Linked DNA regions of Homo sapiens. The protein of the gene in region 5 interacts with the protein of the main gene of each other region in a pairwise test. Each region holds a gene or a part of one and is shown on either strand. Other genes may lie near its edges. The genes, in order: GLYAT, SMPD3, MTF2, STMN2, VOPP1, OFD1 and MAP7D1.

What was found.
Region 1: the proteins of VOPP1 (region 5) and GLYAT interact in a two-hybrid assay, tested with the Homo sapiens proteins (one large-scale study listed by IntAct).
Region 2: the proteins of VOPP1 (region 5) and SMPD3 interact in a two-hybrid assay, tested with the Homo sapiens proteins (one large-scale study listed by IntAct).
Region 3: the proteins of VOPP1 (region 5) and MTF2 interact in a two-hybrid assay, tested with the Homo sapiens proteins (one large-scale study listed by IntAct).
Region 4: the proteins of VOPP1 (region 5) and STMN2 interact in a two-hybrid assay, tested with the Homo sapiens proteins (one large-scale study listed by IntAct).
Region 6: the proteins of VOPP1 (region 5) and OFD1 interact in a two-hybrid assay, tested with the Homo sapiens proteins (one large-scale study listed by IntAct).
Region 7: the proteins of VOPP1 (region 5) and MAP7D1 interact in a two-hybrid assay, tested with the Homo sapiens proteins (one large-scale study listed by IntAct).

Annotation. Positions count from the first base shown.
Region 1 is NC_000011.10:58,708,257-58,711,600, forward strand, and holds the end of GLYAT (glycine N-acyltransferase), read right to left. Parts: intron 2,506-3,344; coding exon 2,334-2,505; coding exon of another isoform or gene 2,330-2,333; exon of another isoform or gene 1,913-2,329; coding exon 1,510-1,912; 3' UTR 501-1,509; downstream 1-500. UniProt on the Homo sapiens protein: Mitochondrial acyltransferase which transfers an acyl group to the N-terminus of glycine and glutamine, although much less efficiently.
Region 2 is NC_000016.10:68,368,509-68,372,008, forward strand, and holds part of SMPD3 (sphingomyelin phosphodiesterase 3), read right to left. Parts: coding exon 2,351-3,500; intron 1-2,350. UniProt on the Homo sapiens protein: Catalyzes the hydrolysis of sphingomyelin to form ceramide and phosphocholine. Ceramide mediates numerous cellular functions, such as apoptosis and growth arrest, and is capable of regulating these 2 cellular events independently.
Region 3 is NC_000001.11:93,131,283-93,134,782, forward strand, and holds part of MTF2 (metal-response element-binding transcription factor 2), read left to right. Parts: intron 1-2,420; coding exon 2,421-2,526; intron 2,527-2,645; coding exon 2,646-2,698; intron 2,699-2,808; coding exon 2,809-2,913; intron 2,914-3,500. UniProt on the Homo sapiens protein: Polycomb group (PcG) protein that specifically binds histone H3 trimethylated at 'Lys-36' (H3K36me3) and recruits the PRC2 complex, thus enhancing PRC2 H3K27me3 methylation activity.
Region 4 is NC_000008.11:79,652,617-79,656,116, reverse strand, and holds part of STMN2 (stathmin-2), read right to left. Parts: intron 1,247-3,500; coding exon 1,055-1,246; intron 1-1,054. UniProt on the Homo sapiens protein: Regulator of microtubule stability. When phosphorylated by MAPK8, stabilizes microtubules and consequently controls neurite length in cortical neurons.
Region 5 is NC_000007.14:55,471,503-55,475,002, reverse strand, and holds part of VOPP1 (WW domain binding protein VOPP1 isoform 1 precursor), read left to right. Parts: intron 1-1,957; coding exon 1,958-2,148; coding exon of another isoform or gene 2,149-2,249; 3' UTR 2,250-3,500. UniProt on the Homo sapiens protein: Increases the transcriptional activity of NFKB1 by facilitating its nuclear translocation, DNA-binding and associated apoptotic response, when overexpressed. May sequester WWOX in lysosomal vesicles and thereby regulate WWOX role as tumor suppressor.
Region 6 is NC_000023.11:13,733,527-13,737,547, reverse strand, and holds the start of OFD1 (centriole and centriolar satellite protein OFD1), read right to left. Parts: upstream 2,801-4,021; 5' UTR 2,477-2,800; coding exon 2,465-2,476; intron 2,301-2,464; coding exon 2,202-2,300; intron 1,071-2,201; coding exon 870-1,070; intron 1-869. Other genes in the region: TRAPPC2 (trafficking protein particle complex subunit 2), read left to right, coding at 3,416-3,498. UniProt on the Homo sapiens protein: Component of the centrioles controlling mother and daughter centrioles length. Recruits to the centriole IFT88 and centriole distal appendage-specific proteins including CEP164. Involved in the biogenesis of the cilium, a centriole-associated function.
Region 7 is NC_000001.11:36,162,660-36,166,159, reverse strand, and holds part of MAP7D1 (MAP7 domain-containing protein 1), read right to left. Parts: intron 1-3,500. UniProt on the Homo sapiens protein: Microtubule-stabilizing protein involved in the control of cell motility and neurite outgrowth. Facilitate microtubule stabilization through the maintenance of acetylated stable microtubules.

The DNA.
Region 1 (3,344 bases), on a different chromosome or scaffold from region 5:
TGCACTCCAGACTGGGTGACAGCACGAAACTCTGTCTCAAAAAAAGAAAAAAAAAATAGAAAGCTGTCCTAACCTGTTGCAACCTGAAAGATTATCTCTCTTGTTCCCCCTCAACTGACTCTTGTTTGAGACAATTATCTAAACTTTTAATAGAGTTCAGGCATTCTGAAGTAATGCTATAATTGGAATGTTTGTGTTTCCTCCAAAATTCATGTTGAAACTTAATCCTCAATGTAACAGTATTAAGAGATAGTCTTTAAGAGATAATTAGGCCACAAGAACGTCCACCCTTATGGATGGGATTTGTGCCTGAAGGAAAAAGGACTGGAGGAAATTAGCTGGGCTCCTTTTTGCTCTTCTGTCTTTCTGCCATGTGAGGACACAGTGTTCATCCCCTACAAATAACACAGCAATAATGCACCACCTTGGAAGCAGGGACTGGATTCTCACAGACACCAAATCTGCTGGCACCATGATTTTAGACTTCCAGCCTCCAGAACTGTGATAAATAAATTTTTAATTATTTTATTATTATTTTAAATAAACAAATAAGTTCAGACTGTTATTTATGAATTACCCAGTCTCAGGTATTTTGTTACAGCAGGAACAAACTGAGATTAGTAATGTGCTGAGGCTAATTGGACAAGCAGGTGTTCATGCTGTCTCCTCTCCCTTCAACTCCTATCTCTCCTCAATAAACCATCACATCCCTGGGTCAAGGTGCTCCCACCTTCACCTTTTCATACACTCATTCCTTTCATGCTGTCACCATGATGAACCACTTAGCTTGAACAAACACAATAAAAATTGTATACAGTCAAACACAAAACTTTCTGTATTATTTAGGAGTTGTGGGTTTTGGAAGCTCATCTTTAGAAAAAACATTGGATCTTTTTTCCTGGAATAGGAGCTTGGAGAGGATAGGATATCATCAGTTGATATTTCTTCTAGTAACATTCCCTGCTATATCATGTATACTGTATTTAGCCTAATATCCCATATATATTTGTGTCCAGTATATTTAATGTACCTATAAAGTAGCAATAACAGGAGAGGATAATCTCTAAAGACCTGCTGAGGAGAGTCCACTTGTTGATCATAAGGGAAAGGCTTTAGAAAGAAAGAAGTCATAGTGCTCAGAAAATTTAATTCACCTCTTCCTAGCTCCCAGAAAAACTGGCAAGGGTCTTGCAACTGAGGAACCAGGGATTCCAGGAGAAGTAATTTGGAGCAATATGTATCTGATGAAGTGTCATAGAGGTCCTGGAAATGTGGGGAGGTAAATTGCTTATGTCAAATGTAAGAGGACCTGGGCCTGCTTCCCACTGAGAAACCTGTGAATGCAGGGACCATGGCGATGCTGTTGAACATCACACTGCTTCCCCAGAGTCCAAACAGTGCCCACTCCTTTACTGCTGATTACAATTTATTATTTCTTTTCATCCACCATCCACTCCTCAAATTATACGCCCAGACCTGCCCAACACTGTCTTATGTTCAGGATTGGCATCACAGAGGTACACAGTTCCACTGGTTCCAGCTTCTGGGAATGGGAACATGTTGCAGTGTGTAACTCATTTTTTGCATAGCTTCATTGCTGTAGTCTACATGAGAATAGACAGGAAACCCAAGTTTGCCCAATTTCTGGGCGTGGGAATAGATGACATACGTCACAAGGCCATGGAGCCGGTATTCCGGCAAGGTGCCTGCCATTCTCATCTCTCCAGTCTGGTCCATTAGATCCCAGCACACAGGGGTCCCCTCAGGCCCCAGGAGACAGCAGGTGGGAAAGGTCTGAATGCAGCGCTCAATGAATCTCTGGCTCCTCTCATTACCACCAAAATGCCAGAATTTATTCACCAAGTGAGCATGGGTAACATCCATGGATGAGAGTTTAAACATCTCTTGGTTGCTATGGAGGGTCCAAGAAGAAAACAAAATCCATTAGTATAAAGGTTTGTATTTGCTGTGACCTCTATTGTCTTGAGAGACAGAGTAGACAGAAGAAATAACAAATGTGAAGTCCTGGAATATAGATGAGCTTGTGATGAAAGAGGAACAGAGTGAAGGTCAGAGCTGTTGGAGGAAGAAAGCAGGAAGGGCAATAAAGGTCCAAGTGGTAGCCAGAGGCCTGGTTTATTCTAGATGAGAAGGGAGATGGTGGAGTCTTTTAAGCAGGAGAGAAACATGTTCTGAGTTACATTTTTTAAAAATGTAATTCTGATTTCTTTGTACAACATTGATTGTAGGAAAGCCAGAGTGAATGCAGGGAGAGAAGTTGGGAGGTTACTTGAGAGGTGTGAGTGGTATAGACTGGATTTTATCAAACTCACATGGCCTTGGGTTTGCCACCATTGGGAGATAAAATCTTTGATTTCAGCAGGAAAGGAGTCAGTTCCTTGGCTGTTTCAGCTGCCATATAGAGAATGCGTTGTGTTTGTTTGACTTTGAAGGACTTAATGGCTGCAAGATTTTGTATAGCCTCATTCAGGCTAGGCTGTGAACCTAGACGGTATAATAAACAGAGATGAAATGGTTTAGGTATATTCTAGACTGAAGTTCTGCAGTGGAGTAAGAAGTGTCTGGGATTTAGTATCATAAAATCTTGGTTCTGGGCTTGGTGCTACCACTGTGTGACCCATGTCAATAGTAATTTAAAAAGTGAAGATTCCTCTTCAAAAAGACTTCCCTCCCCATCTAATTAAGAATCAATAGTAACTTCCTCTAGAAGCAAAATTTATTCAAAGACCTGTGCTAGCATTCTTAGATAACTGCTAGAAGATAATAAAGAAATCAATGTACTTTGTGTTCTTAGCTCCCACAGTTTAGCCTAAATATTTACCCTGGCATACTTATACTGGTCCAAGCAAGCATTAGGCCATAGCCTGTTCCTCTTCCTTACTTGGAGATGTTTTACCTTTCTCAGCATTCCACAAGTTACTTGCCCCTTCCTTTGTTCTCCTCTGCCTTTATCTCTTTTAAAAGGTTTTAAGTTGCTAGCCAGTTGGGACAAATGCAGAATGTGAGGCCCTGTTCCAGCCAATGGAAACCAGACACAACAGTAGGGTGGACATGTCAGGTTATACATAACCCTGTCTCCTCTGTTCAGTTCTCATGGCAAAATTGCTGGTGAGTGTACCCTTTCTGCAGAAAGTAAAAATGGCCTTACTGAGGAAATTAAATTTATGTTCAAGTGCTATTTCTTTACAGCACTGGGGAAGAAGCATTTCAAACAGTAAGGATTTGTGTAATTTTTTCTGTTTTACCTAAGCAAAAACATGCTTAGGGATGGATTCAGTTATGATTGTGTTATTAACAGCAGTATCTGCACTGGAACCAAGTTT
Region 2 (3,500 bases), on a different chromosome or scaffold from region 5:
GGGCCATCTGGAAAGTGAGCTAGGGGCCTGGAATGGATGGGTCGGGCACAGGACAGAGCAGCCAAGGTGGTCCTTCTGGCTTCAGGATGGCAGAACACAGAAGAGGAGCAGCCCGGGGCAGAGGCTGAGTCTGGTTTGCGAGTGAATGGGGATGTGTCCTGGAGGCAGCCAGATGTAGGGCTGGGGGGAGAGGTCTGGGCCAGGACAAAGCAGAGGGGCCTCAGAAAGGGCAGAAATGGAAGCTGCAGAGTCTCACTCCCAGGCAGGTGTCATGATGGTTGCTGGGAAACCCCACTGCGGGGCAGCCAACCACGGCTCCAGCTCACTGCAGCCGCGTGGGGTACGGAATGTGGCAGGCCTGGGGCTGCTGAGAGAACCTGCAAACCGGGTTTTCTGTGAAATATCTTGATTTTAACATATTGGTCAAGGCTGGGTATGGTGGCTCACGCCTGTAATTCCAGCACTTTGGGAGGCCGAGGTGGGCAGATCACCTGAGGTCGGGAGTTTGAGATCACCCTGACCAACACGGTGAAACTCCGTCTCTACTAAAAATAAAAAATTAGCCAGGCGTGGTGGTGCATGTCTGTAATCCCAGCTACTTGGGAGGCCATGGCAGGAGAATTGCTTGAACCCGGGAGGCAGAGGTTGTGGTGAGCCGAGATCGTGCCACTGCACTCCAGCCTGGACAACAAGAGTGAAACTCCGTCTCAAAAAAAAAAAAAAAAAATTGGTCAATACAAAAAATTTTTGAATGTCATAGATCAGGTTACAGTTTGAGACCCAGGAGGTAGAGGAAGATGAAAAGAACTTTCAGGACAGAACCTGGGAGGAGGGGCTGTCCCAGGCAGACACTGTTGAGCTCAGTGGGAACAGTGAGGGTGCCCCACAGAGGAGGGAGGTGGGGACAGGATGTGTGGATTGATCTGTGCAGAAGTGGGCTGGGGTAGGGGGCGGGGGAGGGCCCGGCCTCTGAGCCACCTGTAGTAGGGTGGGAGTGAGGGGTGGGAGTAAGGGGCACATCCTCCCACCCTGGACCTGGCAACACATCCCCTTCCTCCCCAGAAAGTCACTCTAGCTGTCGAGACAAAAATATATCCAGGGAACAGAACACCAACGGACCATATGCCAAAATGGGAAGGTTGGATCTATCTGTCAGGAGTTGCTTCAATTTCAGCATCCCTTGCTGTGAATGAAGAGCAGAGGACCCAAACTCTGGGCCTGGCAGAGCCACACAAGAGCCATGGACGAACCAGAAGTGGGGGCCAGGGCCCTTGCTGCCTGCCCTGGCTCCCATAGGGCTTGAAGACAAGCTCTGCCACTCATGGCAGGCGCCAGGTTGCGCACCAGTGTTTCCCTGGGCAGGCGGAGTGTGGTTGCTTCTGAAGGCGAACTGGGAAGTGAGGAAACCTGCCCTAGGCAGGCCTCTGAACCGCAGCCCTCCCTGCAAAGCCACCACTTTTTCATGTCTCACCCTAAAGGGACAGAACCCACATCTGAAACAGCTGCTGCCTCTCAGGGCAGAAAGCCCTGTGCTGCATCCACTGGCCAAATGACACTTCAGAAAACCGTGGAAGCACCATGAGCGGCTTTTGGATAGAGAACAAAAGTCGACACTCTGAGCATCTCAGGCGCAGTAGAAGATAATGTGTAATGACCAAATTACCACAGCCTAAAAACTCCTCCAATCGAATCCAAATTAGCAGAAATAATTATGATTCACTTTAATTAGTGACTATGGAAGCGAAACCATGGCTGGTGGGCAGACAGCCTGGCAGGGCAGCTGCACGACAGCCAGGAGGGAGGGGTGTCCAGGCCAGGGAAGCTAGTGGCCTCAGTGAGCCAGGCGGTGTCACGGCCTGGAGACCTGAGGGTCCCGTCTGCTTGCCTGATGCGCTTGGTCTGGGCTGGTCTCTCTGCCTCGTTATGAACCGACAGGGCCCCTACCTCCTGTTCTTCCTCACTTTATCACTGCCACCATCTCCACGGCTACCACCGCCACTCTTGCGCCAGCTCGGAACCCTTCCCAGGCCTTACTGCTCTGTTCCACTCCCACCCTCTCTCCACTTTACAGTTGGGGAAATGGTGGCTCAGAGATCTGAGGAACGGGCCCAGATCACCCAGATGGGTCTGTCTGAGCCCAGAGCCTCGGTGCTCATCCCTGCATTGGTCTTGACCCTGTCCCCGAGCCAGGGCCCTGCTGTTTGGCTCCAGGAAAGACCGCGTCTGCCTCCCACTCCAACCTCCCACTCCAGCCCCCATGACGATGAGGACTCCCCGCTGCAGCCCCCCTGCCTACATGGCTCTAGGACCAGCTGGCACGTGGTCCTCAGGCTGGGCCGAGGTCTCCTACCTTGAGAAACAGAGCTCCCTTAGAGGCCAGGGCATCGTCGTTACACTTGTTGGGGTAACAGTGATAGGCCACGTCCATGATGGGGTAGCGGCTGGCAAAGAGGAGGCCGCTGTTGAGACACTTGAAGCTGCAGCAGCCCTGGCAGCCGTAGACCCCGACGTCGTACAGGATGTACTCGAAGTAGCCGTGCAGCTGCTCTTTCAATTTGGTGGCTGCTCGCTTGTCAAACACCTCCTGCAGGCACAGGAAGTCCAGGTTGGCGGGGAAGAAGGCGGAGACCTCATGGTCGAAGGCCTCGTCGGGGTGCCGCCTCCTGCGTGCAGCCGCCTTCTTCACCACCGAGGCCTTGTACAGGAGCTTGCTGTTGGCACCTGGCTCCCCGCTGGCACTGGTGTCTGGCCCAGCTCGCCCCTTCACCAGGGACTCCCGGGAGGCCGAGGGGCTGCCCAGGCTCCCTGAATCCCCGTCCTGCTGATTATGGTTGGGCGTCTGGCCCCTTGGGCCCCCGCCAGCTCCGTTCCTGGCCTGGCCCCCAGGCACAGGGTCGTCAGCTTCAGGTGGCCGGCCGCCCTCCTCGCCACCGATGCGCACGATGCAGGCATCCTCCGGGCTGCTGCTGTCGACAGGGTCCCCAGAGGCTGGGCCGTTGGCAGCCTCGTCACCGGGGTGCCGCCCACCGTCACCCTTGTACTCCACAGAGGCTGTCCTCTTAATGCTCCCGGGGACGGCCCGGGCCACCCCATCGCCGCCCTGTGGTGACACCAGGCTGCTGAAGCTAGCGGCGCTGATGGAGGTATTGGTGGGGGAGTCGATGTAAATTTTGATCTGGGGCCGGGCGGCCCCATTGCGGATTCTCTGCCCGATCTCCTTGGCCCGCGCTTGGGTGTTAAAAAGGTTGTTGACCCTGGCGAGTGAGTCGGGCAGGAGGCAGACGTTGGCAGTGGCAAAGCAGAAGCTTTTGCCAGGCCCCGTGCCCTTCCATTCACTGAGCAGGGCTGCCCCACCGGCCAGGCCCTTGTCTTCCAGCCGTGAATAGATGTAGGGCCGGCGGGCCGACTGCAGTGGGGACCAGAAGAGAAAGCCGAGAAACGCAAAGGGCAGCGAGGCCACCAGGAGGGCCAGGTAGATGGGCGTGAAGAGGGCAGTGCAG
Region 3 (3,500 bases), on a different chromosome or scaffold from region 5:
GTATATTAAAGTGTATTGAATGCTAGTGAGAGGTAGATTAAAATGAAAGAAAAATATTTATTGCATAAGGTATCATTTTGTTATTAGTGACCTTGATAAAAGGAATTTCTTTGAAGTGGTACAGATAGAAACCAGATAGGACTGGGTGAAAGTATGACTGAACCCAGCATTGCCAAATTTACGTGTCAAACTGGGCTTCTCCTGCGTATCAGGGACACAGGCAGATTCAAAATAATAACAGTAGTAAAGGAAAGGAGGAAAATAGGAAACTATCTTTAAGGATCCTGAATGAGAGGGGAGAAAATGGAAAGGGTATATGTCATCAACACCTAGAAGCTTTCCTATGTAGGGAGGCCGACAAATGGAATGGCAGCTGAAGAGGGGGATAGGACTAGTCAAATGATGGTTTTTTAAAATAGATGGGAGATAGTTGGAACCTGTTTTTGTGTGTAAGTAGGAATGATCCAGTGGAGAAGAGGAAATTGGTATAGGAGAGTAGAAGCCAAAAGAGAAGGGATGTAGAGCCTGAATGTGGGACTGGCCTTTTCTAGAAGGAGAAGCATCCTTCTGTTGAAATGGGGTGAAAGAGAAGATGGGTACAGATGCCAGTTCTGTTGTAGATTGGGCAGTTGGAAATTGACCGAAGTTCTTGCCTGGTAGCCTCCATTTTCTCGATGAAATATAAGGTAAAGATAGCTGAGAGACTTGTACAGAGAGGGGAATTTAAGGGTCAATTAAGGGTATGGAATAGTCATCTTGGAGATAAGGAAATTGACTGAAGTTCTTGCCTGGTAGCCTCCATTTTCTCGATGAAATATAAGGTAAAGATAGCTGAGAGGCTTGTACAGAGAGGGGAATTTAAGGGTCAGTTAAAGGTATGGAATAGTCATCTTGGAGATAAGGAAAATGTCATTACAAAGCCTTGACAATGAGTCCAGTTATATGAAGTTTGTAAGAAATTAGCTACTAATTAAGTTTTCTTTGAATGAAGGAAAGAATGCTTATTCTATCACTTTCAGATTTTGTCACTCAGATCCTTTGCTAGCAGTTGCCCATATTATGAATCAGAAAAAAAAATTCCACAAGCTTTTTCATTTCTATCATGATTGTGATAGGATATTCCCTTTGTGGTAGCTATCAGGTCATCTGATGCCACCAGATAAGGATTCAGCTGCTTTCTTTAAAGGCATCCTCAGTTCCTTCTGGACCTTGTGTATAAGTTGTTCCTTTTAGTTTGAGATTACTTTCTTTAGTCCAGGAGTCCTTTATAAATATTATGTTGATCATTTTACAAAAGAAATGGATATCCCATCCATCTTATTCTTGAGACTTTTGATTATAGCGTCTGGTTCTACTTTGTCCTTCTAGTTCCCCTACTTTCTCCTTCCTCATACTTCCACCTTTATTCCCTGACCTTTTTTGGCATCTGGAGGGATAAGTTTTTTTCCTACTTTCTCCATTCATCTCTTTCTAGGCTATTGTATAGTGTTCTTTTTTCTCTCCTTAATTGAAGTCTCCTGGACAATTTCCTCATAGCCCTCACTCCATTTTATTAGCTTGGCTTGTATACACATTTGTCACTTTCTAACTATATTGTGAACTCTTTAGCACAGGGAACACCTTTGTATCCATATTATCTAATATCATCTTTATATGGTAGCTATTGCTGAGTAAATGAAATAGATATTCTTTCTATATATATATTTTCTTTTTTTCTATAATTAGTGTCTTTGCCTATTGCACTTTTTTCCTTCCTATTGCTTGGTATTTGGCTTTATGTTTAAAAAATGGTTTTCTAGGTCTTTCTGATTTTTCCTTTTGAATGACTCCCTGAGAATATGAAGGATTTCTTACTCCTTTCTCCTTTACATTCTGCCACTCTGGGCTTCATTCTCTTTCTGATAGTGTCATTCAAGAATCTACATATATATCTAAAGGCAGCCTTTATGACTACTACAATGTTAACATAGATATTTCCTGACTCCATGAAGTTAACTGCTAAATTCATAGTCATTTTTAGTAGTAAATCCTTGAAACATCCTCCAAGTTGTAACCACCTAAAATTAAACTATATAATTGAGCTTTTAGGAGTTTTGAAATCTTCCATCCAGTATAATTGTCTGGTTTTTGTTGTTGTTTTTAAATCTTTAAGTGGTATATATTGTTCAGAATTATATTAAAGAGGACTTTCTTTAAACCTTTCATAATGTAAATATCTTTAAAGTCAAGAAATATTTATTTGGATTAGAATATATTATCTGTGCACTTGACTAAACTTGTGGATTCAACTAATATTTACTTTTTATTACCATTAATATAAAATAATAAAATATATGTATATGTGTCTAGTTACATACATAGAGTCAATGTCTTTGTTTTCTTTATGCAGAGATTAAATGCATAATGGTTTTCCATTTCAGGGAAGTAAGCAATGGCATAGAAAAAAAAGGAAAGAAAAAATCTGTAGGTCGTCCACCTGGCCCATATACAAGAAAAATGATTCAAAAAACTGCTGAGCCACTTTTGGTAAGAGGATATGTTGGTATATGTTCTCAAGAAGAAGGATGCATGAAATAACTGAGAAGCTAGTATTTTTTTCAGCTTACTTTAGAGACATGCTTTAAGTATATATTTTTATTTTCCAGGATAAGGAATCAATTTCAGAGAATCCTACTTTGGATTTACCTTGTTCTATAGGGTAAATAGAAAGTTATTTTCTCCCTTTCTAGGTTTTGTCTTTTGAGTAGATATTAATATTTGTTTGTTATATAATATAGTCGTTACACAATTTAAATTCTTTTGTCTCAGGAGAACTGAGGGAACTGCACATTCATCCAATACCTCAGATGTGGATTTCACGGGTGCTTCCAGTGCAAAAGAAACTACCTCGTCTAGCATTTCCAGGCATTATGGGTAGATATTTTACATTCTTATTTTTTTTACTTTTTTTACTCTAGATTTCTTTTCTTTGTAAAGTGTTGATTGAATAATTTTTTAGCAATTGAAAGTGATGTAAGTTGTGTCTATCAGCTTTTTGAGAGGTAATCCATATGTAGATCCCAATAGTTGTTAATATTCATTTGAAATATTTTTGCTTTCTAGAGTACAAATGTATTTTTCATGTTTGTGTGGAAATTTGCTGTGTACACAGAGAAAAAGTATACCATTGTTTAGAAGCTGTGCTCGTTAGGCTTTTTAATGCCTCTGCTACACAAGTGTTCTTTGCTTTAGGAAGATATGATTTTTTTTTTTCTTTTTAAGAGACAGATTCTCACTCTGTTGCCCAGGCTAGAGTGCGGTGGCACAATCATGGCTCATTGCAGCCTCAAACTCCTGGCTTCAAACAATCCTCCCATGTCGGCCTCTCTAGTGGCTGGGACTACAGATTGTGCCACCACACCTAAGTAATGCTTTTTTATTTTTTGTAGAGATGGTTTTGCTAATTTGCCCAGGCTGGTCTTGAACTCCCGATCTCAAGTGATCCTCCTGTGTTGGCCTTC
Region 4 (3,500 bases), on a different chromosome or scaffold from region 5:
TCAGAGACTGAGAATGAAAACAGAATCATCAGAACTTCAGGATAAGGTTTTTTGAACCTTAGATGAGAAGGGCCATCTCTAACAGAAGACATGAAACTCTGAGAAATAGAAAACAGGAGGCTCATCTAATTAAACTCTCAGGGCTCTGATGACAGGCACACTCCTGTTTTGCTCTGCATCTCCAATGCCTATCACACAAAGGCACTTGCTACTGGCGGGAAGGGTGACTGACTGCTCAGAAAAGGATTGAGGCGTCTTTCTCAAACATCCCATTTCTCAATGCTTATTCCAATTTCTGGAAACGGACACAGCTAAACTACTCACAGCTATACTGTATATTTTCAAAGGAAAGGTTTTTTGAGGGGATAGGTGGGAGACAGCATAGAGAGTACAAAAGTGAAAGACAGCATTTTTCAGAAGAACTCCAGCACAGCTCCTCCTGACTCATGGGAATGAATATATGTTTAGGTTGTTGAAGAGAAGGGCACCAGGATACCAGAACTGGATGAAACATCCCCTATGAGCTAATCTTTGCTATGGTCCCATGTGATGCTATTATACCCTAGAATGGGCTTACCAGTGTTCATAAATACCCTGGCCTTTTCTGGCAAATATATTTTTCTAATTTAATATTTTAATTAAATATATATTTAATGTCATATATTAAACAAATATTAAATCAAATGTTATTTATACTTATATCAATATAATATATAGACATTAATATTTCCAGTGTAACATTTTTCCTACAGATTGCCTCGTGAGGCTTGTATAGAAGTCTTACACATTTCAAAAGCATGAATCAGCCTCCCTGAATCCACTCACCATGGGAAAATTTGACAAAATTCCAGCTTTCATGATGGATTCCCATTTCTCTACCATGTTGCACCTCCTGCTAACTCAATGCTACACTGTGAGACCCTGCCCATGGGAGTTAGTTGTCCTCACACCTGCAGCAAATTTTGACTTCGTCTCTGTGCTCAGGCATATGGAAGTTCACCCAGCTGTGCTGCATATGAATATATCCATCTGCTCAGGACTCTGCTGAGATTACCTTTTCCTGCAGACGTTCAATAATAGCAGCTAGATTAGCCTCACGGTTTTCCTTAATTTGTTCCATTTTCAGGATCAGCTTTTCCTCCGCCATCTTGCTGAAGTTGTTGTTCTCCTCCAAAGCCTTCTGAAGGACTTCTCGCTCGTGTTCCCTCTTCTCTGCCAATTGTTTCAGCACCTGGGCCTCCTGAGACTGGGGAAGAAAAACATAGCCATCTTATAATTATCCAAACACAAACCTAGCAGAATAACGGCCCACCAATTGGAGGGAGCATTCTTTTCAGATGAATAGTACTCCCAGCCTTGAGCACTATTGTCAAGTCTGTACTCATCTGCATGGCTTAGAGTTTTCTATAGAATGTGGCTAGTTGGGAAATGCGGTTAGCTGAATTTTCAGCTGTGAGTATATTTCGGACTGTCTTAGAAGAAGAAGCATTTAATCCTCATTGAGGAGTTACAAATTTTTTTAAAAAAAGGCTTTGTTGCTAAGCGTTTATGCAACAGAAAATGCTATAATGAATTACAGGATGGCAATATTCAACCAAAGCCTGAGGAAAACAGTTGAGGACTGAGACAAGTTCTGATCTTCTTCCTGATCCATTGTTTTTTCATCAACTGTAGGCTAGGCCCTACAATAAGCTTTTCAATTTTCATCAATCAAATAATCAAATTCACTTTCTCCTTTTATTTCACACCCCCTTCCCCCCTCCCTATCCCCCATACACCAAAGTCTCTTTGGAGATCTGAGAACAGTGCAAACTTAGTGTCCCCTTGGCCACAGAGAGCAGAAAGTCCTTGTTTTGACCCTCTCTTGAAACCCTGTGGTTGCTCAGTGATTTAGATCCAGATGTACACCCTGCCCTGCACTTTGAGCACTGTAATTTTCTTCCAGCATCAGGAGTCTGTTTGGCTCTGTACAGTGAATGGTAATCACTGGAGCACTTGATAACAATGCAGGTGCCTGGCATCTACCTCCAAAGATTCTGATTCCAAGGTTCTTTGGTGAGGCCCAGTGATAAGCATCACTAGTGACTCAAATGCAGGTAGTCCAGTCTACCTTTTGTAAGTCATACTGGCATGGGCTTTGATGTCAGGCCTGTGTTCAAGTCTTACCTCTGTTTGTGACCCAGGATGTGTTACGTAACTTCTTTCCATATTCTTTTTATTCTCCCCATTATGCAGCTGAGAAAAGTCCCACCCAATACTGACCTATTTAGGTTTAAGACTAAATTATTACACACTCATGGCTTCTGGATAATTTCTCAGGATCAGCTGATGCCCCGAGGCAATCCTTCACAGGAGTAATTATAAGTGGGAATATCTAAACAATGGTTGATCAAAAAATAATCCTAAGTGCCCTGTTAAATACTGATTACCATTGAAAGCATTAGTGGGAAAACATTTTAGTTGATGGTAGTGGTTGTGGACATTTACTGGAAAGGTCTTTTTGTATAAACAATATGGGGCCTGGAGAAAGGAGAAACTTCTCTTCAAATAAAATTCTACAGAAATGGGAAAGTCAGACAGCCTTACACATCTTTACTGATGTGTTTATTCTCAAGTTGATCAGGAATAGGTCTGTGGCTCACTGGAGATTAGACAGAAAATCCTGGGAACCAGCCCTGCCTCTTGCTTTAACCCCATAATGGTTTCAGGACATTTTACTATTTATGTGTTTATTTTTTTTTAGATAGAGTCTCGCTCTGTCACCCAGGCAGAAGTACAGTGGCGTGATCTCTGCTCACTGTAATCTCTGCCTCTGAGGTTCAAGCGATTCTCATGTCTCAGCTTCCTGAGTAGCTGAGATTACAGGTGTGTGCTACCACACCCTGCTAATTTTTGTATTTTTAGTAGAGATGGGGTTTCGTCATGTTGGCCAGGCTAGTCTTGAACTCCTGGCTTAAGTGATCCACCCGCCTCGGCCTCCCAAAGTACTGGGATTATAGGTGTGAGCCACTGTGCTTGGCTGGTTTTAGGACATTTTTAGTGGAACCAATGCTTTCTTACTTTGTATTGGTTTCAGGAAAACCAATACAAAAATAATAAGAAAATTATAACATAAATTGAGTTCAAACTCCAATGGAGCCTTTCTGGAAGAAATATGAATAAAATATTTTCTAGCTGGTTCACTCTCCTGCCTCTAGGTGGGACTGTTGGTAAAGCATCCTACACAGACTTTGCTTATTTGCTGTTATCAGGACTACGGAATTGTTACAGGGAGAGAGGTGTGTGTGTAAATATTTAAAGTTTCTCTCTCTGGGAAAAGTCTTCATGAAATTAATTTTTTTGGTAATGGATAAGAATAGTACCTATCTCATATGGTTGTCAGGATCAAACAAAATAATGTTTGCAAGGTATTTAATGCAGTGTCTAATATCAAGTAAGTTAGTACTGAATGAGTGGTAATCATTATTATCAAAAGCAAAATTTAAGACACTTGTGACAAG
Region 5 (3,500 bases):
AAGAGCACGGGAACCCCAAGGCTACAGCCGTGCTTATTTCCATCTCTCTTCAGCTGGGGAGAGAACATCACTTCTTCCTGAAAATTCTCCCACCCCTTGCTGCCCTGGCTCCTGGTGCACCACCTCCTGCCGCATCTTCCCATTGCCTATGCATCCTTCTCATCAGCCTTAGACACTTCATGCTCCTCTCCTGGCCTCAGTGCTGCTCCTTCCTGCAGCCTTCTCCTGGACATGCCCATGTTTCCACCACCACCTTCCCACAGGAGGCTCCAGCTCCAGAGCTGCCTCCGCCCTCTCCAGTCCAGCAGGGACTTTTTCATCTGCCCCGCCCTTGTCCTGGTGCTGCTGTAGCAGTAGTGTGACCTTGGTAAGGCGCTAATTCTTGCAGAGCCCCTGTTCTCCTGTATTGCCCTGCCTGTTGGGGGGCCCTTATTGTGAGCAGAACCTAGGGCCTTTTCTTCTCAGCCCTTGTCTCCCACGCTGTGCGCTCCCCATCGAGTCAATCCCAGGCCAGTCATTGCCGACAGCCCTCAGTGCCTCATTCTCTCTTCTCCATTTTTTCTCTAATATTCAGAAGCCTTCATAATGTCTTGCTTAGACTGTTGCAATGCCCTCTTTTTAAAAATCCTTGGTTTTTTAATTGTATAACATATAGCAGGATCCAGATCTAAATAAAACATAATCTCTGCCCTTGCGAAACTCATGGTAATGGCAGTAAGTCGACTTCTAAATAGAACACACCCAAGGCAGCGGGTGAGATGCATCAGAGCAGCGCAGGTGGCATCTGTGGGACCACACGGCATCTCACTCAGGTGGTGTCTGTGGGACGGCACAGATGCAGGGCGAGGCAGCCTCTCACACAGGGTGGCATCTGTGCTGAGTGCCCTCCTGGCAGTTGAGAGCGCTCAGTGAGAGACAGTGCAGGCCTGGCCTGTGCTTCTGTTCTACATGCTCTCCTTCCGCACATGCGCAGATTCCCATGGTCTGACTTATGTGGGCTTTGGGACATCTTGTGTACCTTGATGGGCATGTTTCTAGAGTCAGAACTATATCACACTGTGTCAGGGGGAGAATTGCAAAAAAAGAAAAAAAACCCTACACAATATTCACACAGGGGCAGCTTCTTTGACACTTGAGTGTCTCCCTGAGCTAAAGGAAGCCTCACTTCAAAAACACCTGAGTCCTGTCACAAAATCAGCTATACCCAGGGAACACCCAGCACTTTCACGGTTTTGTCTGATTCTTTATTTACATATGCATAATTCTATAGTGTTAATCTGCATGATCACAGTAAGCACACTGAAAACAGCACCTCAGAGTGAGGGCTAGATTTGGGGTCGGGTGTCCAGCCTGTACCCTCCTGTCACCTTCTGTGGTGCCCCCGTGCCCTGCTCCTCAGCTTGTCACTAGGGAGTCAGCCTGCGGCTCCGCTCCTGACCCATGGAGCGTCAATCAGCTGCAGCCTGGCTATGTGTGCCCAGGTGCACGGCCTCCCTGCCTGTGAGTAACTCCTGCCCTGAGGGCACACTAGCCCGGCAGGGAGAATGGAGACCTTACTTCAGAAATGGTCACCAGCCAATGGCGTGCCCAGAGGGGTTGTGGAGCTCCTGCGATAATGCCAGGCTGAGTCGCGAAGCCTGGGTGGTCTTTGCAGCTCTTCCGATAGTTCACCGCAGACAGCCTCACCTTACTGTGGCCCAGTTTCCTCCACCCTAATGTGTGAACTGGTAACGTGGAATGTAGTCCAGTAGAATCAAAGCCCCGAGAGGGCAGGGACCTGCCTATTGTGTTGCTTGTCACCACAGCCCAGGTGCCCCCTCACCGGGCATGTTGGGTCCTTCATACACTGTCGCTGAGTGAATGACGGGGCGTGGTCTGCTGGCCCTGCAGCCTGCACATACTTGCGGTGTGATGGGGCTTTCCCTTCTGTGCTCACCTATGTTTGTCTGTCTTTCAGGAGCCCAGCAGCCGGGGCCGCCCTATTACACCGACCCAGGAGGACCGGGGATGAACCCTGTCGGGAATTCCATGGCAATGGCTTTCCAGGTCCCACCCAACTCACCCCAGGGGAGTGTGGCCTGCCCGCCCCCTCCAGCCTACTGCAACACGCCTCCGCCCCCGTACGAACAGGTAGTGAAGGCCAAGTAGTGGGGTGCCCACGTGCAAGAGGAGAGACAGGAGAGGGCCTTTCCCTGGCCTTTCTGTCTTCGTTGATGTTCACTTCCAGGAACGGTCTCGTGGGCTGCTAAGGGCAGTTCCTCTGATATCCTCACAGCAAGCACAGCTCTCTTTCAGGCTTTCCATGGAGTACAATATATGAACTCACACTTTGTCTCCTCTGTTGCTTCTGTTTCTGACGCAGTCTGTGCTCTCACATGGTAGTGTGGTGACAGTCCCCGAGGGCTGACGTCCTTACGGTGGCGTGACCAGATCTACAGGAGAGAGACTGAGAGGAAGAAGGCAGTGCTGGAGGTGCAGGTGGCATGTAGAGGGGCCAGGCCGAGCATCCCAGGCAAGCATCCTTCTGCCCGGGTATTAATAGGAAGCCCCATGCCGGGCGGCTCAGCCGATGAAGCAGCAGCCGACTGAGCTGAGCCCAGCAGGTCATCTGCTCCAGCCTGTCCTCTCGTCAGCCTTCCTCTTCCAGAAGCTGTTGGAGAGACATTCAGGAGAGAGCAAGCCCCTTGTCATGTTTCTGTCTCTGTTCATATCCTAAAGATAGACTTCTCCTGCACCGCCAGGGAAGGGTAGCACGTGCAGCTCTCACCGCAGGATGGGGCCTAGAATCAGGCTTGCCTTGGAGGCCTGACAGTGATCTGACATCCACTAAGCAAATTTATTTAAATTCATGGGAAATCACTTCCTGCCCCAAACTGAGACATTGCATTTTGTGAGCTCTTGGTCTGATTTGGAGAAAGGACTGTTACCCATTTTTTTGGTGTGTTTATGGAAGTGCATGTAGAGCGTCCTGCCCTTTGAAATCAGACTGGGTGTGTGTCTTCCCTGGACATCACTGCCTCTCCAGGGCATTCTCAGGCCCGGGGGTCTCCTTCCCTCAGGCAGCTCCAGTGGTGGGTTCTGAAGGGTGCTTTCAAAACGGGGCACATCTGGCTGGGAAGTCACATGGACTCTTCCAGGGAGAGAGACCAGCTGAGGCGTCTCTCTCTGAGGTTGTGTTGGGTCTAAGCGGGTGTGTGCTGGGCTCCAAGGAGGAGGAGCTTGCTGGGAAAAGACAGGAGAAGTACTGACTCAACTGCACTGACCATGTTGTCATAATTAGAATAAAGAAGAAGTGGTCGGAAATGCACATTCCTGGATAGGAATCACAGCTCACCCCAGGATCTCACAGGTAGTCTCCTGAGTAGTTGACGGCTAGCGGGGAGCTAGTTCCGCCGCATAGTTATAGTGTTGATGTGTGAACGCTGACCTGTCCTGTGTGCTAAGAGCTATGCAGCTTAGCTGAGGCGCCTAGATTACTAGATGTGCTGTATCACGGGGAA
Region 6 (4,021 bases), on a different chromosome or scaffold from region 5:
GGCTTATAGATTGTAGCAAATGTACCACCTTGATGCAAGATGTTGACAGTGGGGGAGGCTATGAGTGTGTAGGGGCAGCAGGTATATGGGAATTCTCTGTACTTCCCACTTAACTTTGCTGTGAACCCAAAACTGCTCTGAAAAAATAAAGTCTATTAAAAAAAAAAAAACACGCACATATCCACAGGGAAAGTCTGCTGTATCTGCCTTTAAAATAATAAAGTAGTACTAATGTTCAACAGTAATGGTGAAGAAATATAGTTAAAATAATTAGAAAAGTAGTAAAAAAAAAAAACAAGTGTTTTTAATATTTGAGAACTTTACAGATTTTTTAAATTACGTATTTCTCACTTATCTAATTACAAAGAGAAACATCTGAAGAAACTAGTGCAGGAAAAAAAGAGCTCATGTTAGAGATCTAGATTTACCACCCTGCATTGTCACTTAAAAGTTACTTGATGTTGGGCAAATTGATTCACCTCTCCAGAGTCTGGTTCCTCATCCGTAACACACAAAACATCTGCAGTGTGCCTATCACAGTGCCAAGCTTACAGCAGACATTCAGCAGATTGGCAGAGTCTTATTAGACAAGATAGAGGATAGATAGATCAATTATAGGTCTGAAACATTTAGAGATTCTATACATCACTGTTTTATGTGAGACTAAATGAGACGCCAAGAAATTAATTTCAAATTTAGTACCCACTTGTTATATAACAAATATATTATGTGCAGGTACAATGTGAATTCAAAGAGGAAACAGAAATGGACCTAGTCGAGGAGCACTTAGCTATCATACAGCACTTTACTGTCAGCAGAGGAAGAACCTGTTAATAAAAACTTCAGAAACAGAAAAGGAAAGACTTTACCTTTTCTTTTGCCAAACCACTTTCTGGAAAGAAAACAGAAAGTGAATATTCATAGCCACATCTTTGTAAGTGATCTGCCACTAAAGAGTTAGAGGCGCCTATTAAGAGGGAGCTCCCTTCTACTGAAATGGACCGAGGCTGCAGTTCTCCACTCAATACAGGGTGCATCAACTCATGAATTAGCTGGTTTCGAAGTTGTGTCTAGCATAAAATAAAAACAAAAATAAAAAAGAAACACAAGGGAAAGAAATTTCAGCAGGACTGTTTCATTAGAGATATACACAGATGAGCTACATTCATTGGAAACCTTCCTTCTATTTCCATAATGGTTCTAGATCCATGGCCAGAAGTTAGAAACCTTCCCCTGCACACTTTGTCTTACCCCGTGAGACAAGCAGTCCAGTGGGTTCTAGAAAAAGCTTTCTTTCCCCAGCTTCCAAATGAAACGGGTGGTTAGCCAGATCCACTTGCAGACTCATAACTTCACTTCCCTAGAAGCCCATTTCAGCAGCTTACGATTGGGATATTAAGTATAGGAAAAAATTCTGCCACTTCATCACACCTCTGTGGACTGTTGGAGAATATAACCAAAATATTCAACAACAGGGGACTGCTATATACATTACAAAAATATCCAAAGATAAGCCTGTTGCCACTGAAAATGAAGATTTCAAAAAACTTTTAAGGAAACAGGGAAATGCTCACCATATAATTTAAATTAAAAAAGGATACATACACAGGATATAGCTACATATTTTAAACGTAAAATATGCTTTTGAAATGCATATTTCAATGAAAACACGTTGAGCTAATCCTACTCCTGGCTGTTAATCCAAATATAAAGCATACTAATAGGTATTTTCTGCCCAAACTAAACATTCATACATTTCAATATAGTTTAAAGATAAAATTTTTCATTTCCCAAACTATTATTAAGCAGTACACTAGTATTTTCTATATGGTGTCAATGTCCTTCATCCAAATGTATTACAAACCCACTTATTAATTTAGGAACCTATAAGCCATATTTATAAAACAAGCCTAATCTTACTGTGTTCATTATACAAATATTTCCTTCTCCTATCTTATTGTCAGTTCAATTAATTATTTGAATATGCTCCTTTAAGACGACTCAAACTCAACATTTTCTCAAACATTTTCAAGAGACTGTAATGTTTCAGGATACAGAGTTATTCGGGAATATAAAAATGTAATTCACCAATACAATCTATGTATCATACGATTATTAAAACCTAAACCTTGATTGAATTTGAACTACCTGTTACAGGTTACACTTGTAAAAGCTGACACAGATACGCCTAAATCCGATACCTTGAGTGTATCCAGTATACCCCGATCCTTAAACGTCTGGTATAGCTTTTTGCGCAGTTCATCTTGACTCAACACATCAGCCACGGTAAACATGTTGGACTAAAAGACAAAATGGTTATAGGTTACCTGCGGGGCAGAGGGAACGTGAACGTCTGAAAACAGACCAGTGGCCTCCGGGGAAGCCATAAGAGGCCTAGCGGCGAAAGTTTAACGAACACAAAACAAGACTTTATTTCCGCCCGAGAAGGGGCAGGTGTGTCTACCTGCGCCATCATCAGGCGTCAGCTCCCTCCGGAGCCCGCCTCGCTCGCCCCGCCGCGGCCCGAGTTTAGTGCCCAGCCCGGGCGGTGGGGCCAAGACGAGGGGGAATCCCTGCCCTCAGAACCCTGCCTCTGTCCCGAGGGTTCGGGAGGAACAAAGGTGCTGAACGTTCTCTGCCTCGCACTCCCAACTAGGTTTTCTAGCAAACACGCGAGCTTCCTTTCTTCGCGGTTCTGAGGCAAGGGCGAGGACCCAGGCACGACTCAAAGGCGGCTGGAGGGCGGGGACCCAGACACTAGGGACTGAAGGCAGCGAGGCAGGACCGCCTCACAGCCAGTCCGGCAACTTCCGGAAACCTGCTAAATATAGCCTTCCCGAGCTGAAGAGCTACGGCGCATGAGCTTGGTTGCCCAGCACCGGCCGGAAGCTCCGCCTACGTATCGCGAGAGCACATCCCAGGGTATCGCGAGAACTGCTTCGGCGTTCTGGCTACAGGTTCGGGGCGCGGGTCTCTTCCGCGGAAACTGACATTGCGTTTCCGTTGTCGGCCTCCCACTGCAGGTAGGGAATGGAGCAAGTGCGGCGGGGGGCGGGTGTTTTGAGTCCCTGGAGGACTTCGTAGCCCCTGCGTGACGCGGATGTTGGTCCTGTACCTCCACCCCTCCCCGGGGTGGCCGGGCCGGACCTGCCAGCCCTCCGCTGGCTCATCCGCGCAGCCCTTCCACCTGCAGACGTCCGCCCTCTCGGGGGCTGTGGTTTCGCGGTTCACTGGGTCATTCAGCTAACCCAGGGTTTCTTAACGGCTGCACTGTTGCCTTTTGGAGCCGGAAGATTCTTTGTTTTGGGAGGCTGTCCTGTGCATTGTAGGTTTAGCTGTATCCTTGCTCTCTATTTTGTCAGTATCACCTTCTCCCCCAAGTGTGACAACCAAAGATGTCTCCAGATATTGCCAGATGTCCTCTTGGAAGCAAGATCGCTCCGGGTTGAGATCCACAGAGCTAAACGTTTTAGAGTACCAACCATTGTGTGCTGTGAGGTAAAGGTGAGCCAGTCCTCATGATGCTTAAATGTAATTAGAAAGGAAAGGAACCAAACCTCTCAGAAGCGATAATGAAAATGTTACAGCCAGAGAATTGAACAAGAACTAAGATACATTGTAGACTGGATAAAGAGTTTAAAGGGGAGGTGGTTGAAGATGGAAGTGATCCAGATCATCTCTGTGGAAAAAGTGTGTCTTTATCGGGGCCTTGATGGGTAGGATTCGGGTGGTGAGCAAAAAGGAGAACATCACAGGAAGGGGAAAAATGAGCAAAGGAATCATTAAAAGAAAAAAAAAAGCCACGACCTTCTTGGGAGCAGTGAGGAATCTAGCCTGACTCCAGAGTTGTGTGCTGGGAATATAAGCCTTATATGGTATCTAAGTCCTGTGAGGACAGAATTGGATGTCAGCTTTGTGTACAGCATTGAAGATGAGTACGATGAGTTTTGATCTCTGGCTGTGAAAAACTTAAAGTATTTAAGAGGCAGTAAGAGTGACAGGACTTCATAGGAGGTGGAGA
Region 7 (3,500 bases), on a different chromosome or scaffold from region 5:
CTGTTTCTCTGCCTTGAATTCTCTGCCCCCAGATTCTGCGTGCCTCGTTCCCTCCCCTCCTTCAGGTCTTTATTTTGATGTCACTTTTAAATGGAGCCTTCCCTTAGCCCCTATTTAAAACTACAAACTGGGCTGGGAGCGGTGGCTCACGCCTGTAATCCCAGCACCTTGGGAGGCCAAGGCAGGTGGATCACCTGAGGTCAGGAGTTCGAGACCAGCCTGGCCACAATGGCGAAATCCCGTCTACTAAAAAACACAAAAATTAGCTGGGTGTGGTAGCATGTGCCTGTAATCCCAGCTACTCGGGAGGCTGAGGCTGGTGAATCACTTGAACCCAGGAGGCAGAGGATGCGGTGAGCCAAGATCGTGCCACTGCACTCCAGCCTGGATGACAGAGTGAGACTCCGTCTCCAAAAAAAAAAAAAAAAAAGCTACAAACTGCAGGCGTGGTGCGGTGGCTTATGCCTGTAATCCCAACACTTTGGGAGACCCAGACAGGAGGATCCCTTAAGGCCAGGAGTTTGAGATCAGCCTGGACAACATAGTGAGATTCCATCTCTAAAAAAATTTTTTTAAATTACCCAGGCATCATGACATGCTGAAATAGAGACTGAGGTTACAGTGAACTATGAGCATGCTGCTGTACTCCAGCCTGGGTGACAAAGCAAAACCCTGTCTCTAAAAAAAAAAAAAAAGAAAAAGAAAAAAAAGAAAAATTTTAAATAAAATTAAATAAAGGCCAGGCAAGGTGGCTCACACCTGTAATCCCAGCAATTTGGGAGACTGAGGTGGGAGGATCACTTGAGGCCAGGAGCTTGAGAACAGCCTGGGCAACACAGCCAGACCCTATCTCAACTAAAAAATAAAAAACAGCTGGGCATGGTGGTGCACACCTGTAGTCTCAGCTAGTTAGGATGCTAAGGCAGGAGGATACCTTGAGCCCAGGAGTTTGAGGCTACAGTGAGCGATGATTATACCACTGTATACCAGCTTGGGCAACAGAGTAAGATGCTGTCTCAGAAAAAGAAAAAAAATTAAATAAAACTACAAACTGCAGTTGAAGTCTCCCTCCCAGTTCCAACTAGATTTTTCTTTCCAAGTCTTCTTTTTCTCCATAGGCATTAACACCATTTTAAGTCTCCCACTGCTAGAATATAATCTCTATGAGGGCACAAATTTTTGCCTATTTTGTTAGCTGGTCTATCTCTAGGGCCAACAGAGCCTGGCACATAGGTGCTCCATAACTATTTGTTGAATGAAGAAATGAATGAACTACACCCAGGCAGATATCATCATCACCATCATCGCTCTCACCTGGATGACTACAAAGTCCTCTCACTGCTCGCCTGTACCCATTCCCACTCTCTGCTCCACTGAGCAGCCAGAGCAAATGCAAATCTGATCACGGTGCTCTTTGCCACTTGAAACTTGTCAGTGGCTTCCCCTTCTTGAACTCACCCTACTAGTCCAGTATAATAGTATAATCTGAAGTTCCTGACTCCCTCCCCCTACTTCTTGGATCTCCTCTCCTACCCTGCTCCCCGCTTGCTCTCTGAACTCCAGCCACACTGACCTTCCTTTAATGCTGATGACCATCCACACTCCCTCCTGCCACAGGGCCTTTGCACATACTCTCTTTTCTTAGCTAACTCCTATTTGCCCTACATATGTTAGTTCAGTCATCACTTCCTCATGGAAGCCTTCCTTGGCTTCTCTGATTAGGATAAATTCCCTTGTTGTATATAGTCATGGTTTCATGTGCCTTTGGAACACTGTCACTGTTATGATTTTAAACTTCCTTGCATGGTTCTTTCCTTATTGTCAGCCTCCTCCTAGAAGGTGAGGGAGCCCCACAAGAGCTGGCCATGTCTACTTTGCTCACTGCTGCATCACCAGCAGCTACCACAGTGCCAAGTATACGGAGATAGTCATAAAATATTTGAATAAACAGTATAACACAAATAAAGTGCTATACTATGAGGCTGCCCTAGCCTAAAGCATATAGAAGATTTTTACTCTAATAAAGAGTAGATCTAGGCTGGGCGCAGTGGCTCACGCCTGTAATCCCAGCACTTTGGGAGGCCAAGGAGAGCAGATCGTTTGAGCCCAGGAGTTCGGGAGCAGCCTGGGCAAATGGCAAAACCCCATGTCTACTAAAACTACAAAAATTAGCTGGGCGTGGTTGTGCACACCTGTAGTCCCAGCTACTTGGGAGGCTGAGAGAAGAATCCCTTGAACCCAGAGGTGGAAGCTGCAGTGATCTGAGACTGCACTACTGCACTCCAGCCTGGGCGACAGAATCAGATGCTGTCTCCAAAAAAAAAAAAAAAAAAAAAAAAAAAGAAAAAAAGTATATATCTATGTGGCAACTTATAGCAAAAAGATAAACATTTGAAGAGAAGCAAAACAACTCCATCTCAATAGTGTTTGGGCAGCTTCCTGGACTAAGCCACACAGGTAGAAGTTAATAAAAATAATAATGAGTGTTTACTCCAGCAGCTCAACAAGAAAAACTTCTCAAGAGGCAAACAAGAAGTTTGGAACTCCTCTTGTGACCTGGCACACTATTGACCCTGAATACAAATATTTTCTTCACAATTATGCCAACCCTGATGAAATGTCATTGGCACAGTGTTATGGAGCAAATCACATTAAGCCAAAACTCCTTGGTTAGTTATCTATACAGTATGGTTAATCTATTTATGATCATTCTCATTTTTAACCATCAAATATGATCCTTCGGCTACTTAATTTTATCTTATTTTTGGTCTATGCCAGATTGTGAGGTTTTGCCACTGTTGGTTTTATTTTGCTACACTAATATCTACCAGAAGTATTTGTTAAGAATGAGATAAGAGACAAATAATTTGTATTTATTTCTTGGCACAAAGAGCATTAGCAGGGCAAAAGTGCAGTGGTGGGTTGCATTGTGGGGTCAAAAAGTCCTGTCTTCCTAAGAGCTCCAAGAGGGGCTGTGCCTGGGGTCTGCAGAAAGATCAGGGCCAAGTCCCTCAGAGAGACTGTCACATGTCTCAGAATACTAACACCCCATCTCCACCCTCTGAGAGCTGGCAGTCCTTTCCTTTTGTCTCTCCCTCCTCCCACCCCAACAACTCTTGTTGGGCCAAATATTCCTCTCACAACACTGATAACTCAGTCTAGCTTTTCTGTTTGCCTGCCACCCCCTGCCCTTGTCAGTGTGAGAGCTTATCAAGAGAAGAAACTCAGTCTTAGTCCTTTTTGCAGCCCCAGAGTCTTATACAGGACCTGCCTGGCACAGAGTGGGAGTTCTGTGTCTGTTTAATGAATGTCCGATGGGTGGGTGGGTGGCTGGGTATGTAGATATGTGGGTGGGGGTACTGTAGAAAGCTACCTAGCTAGTGTGTATTTAGACCCTCAAGCTGCTCCAAAGCTTAGTCTCTCTAAACACTAAATGTCATGTTCATCTCAGAACCTGCATGTCCCCAGCCAGTTTCCAGGCCCAAACTAATTTACTGAAG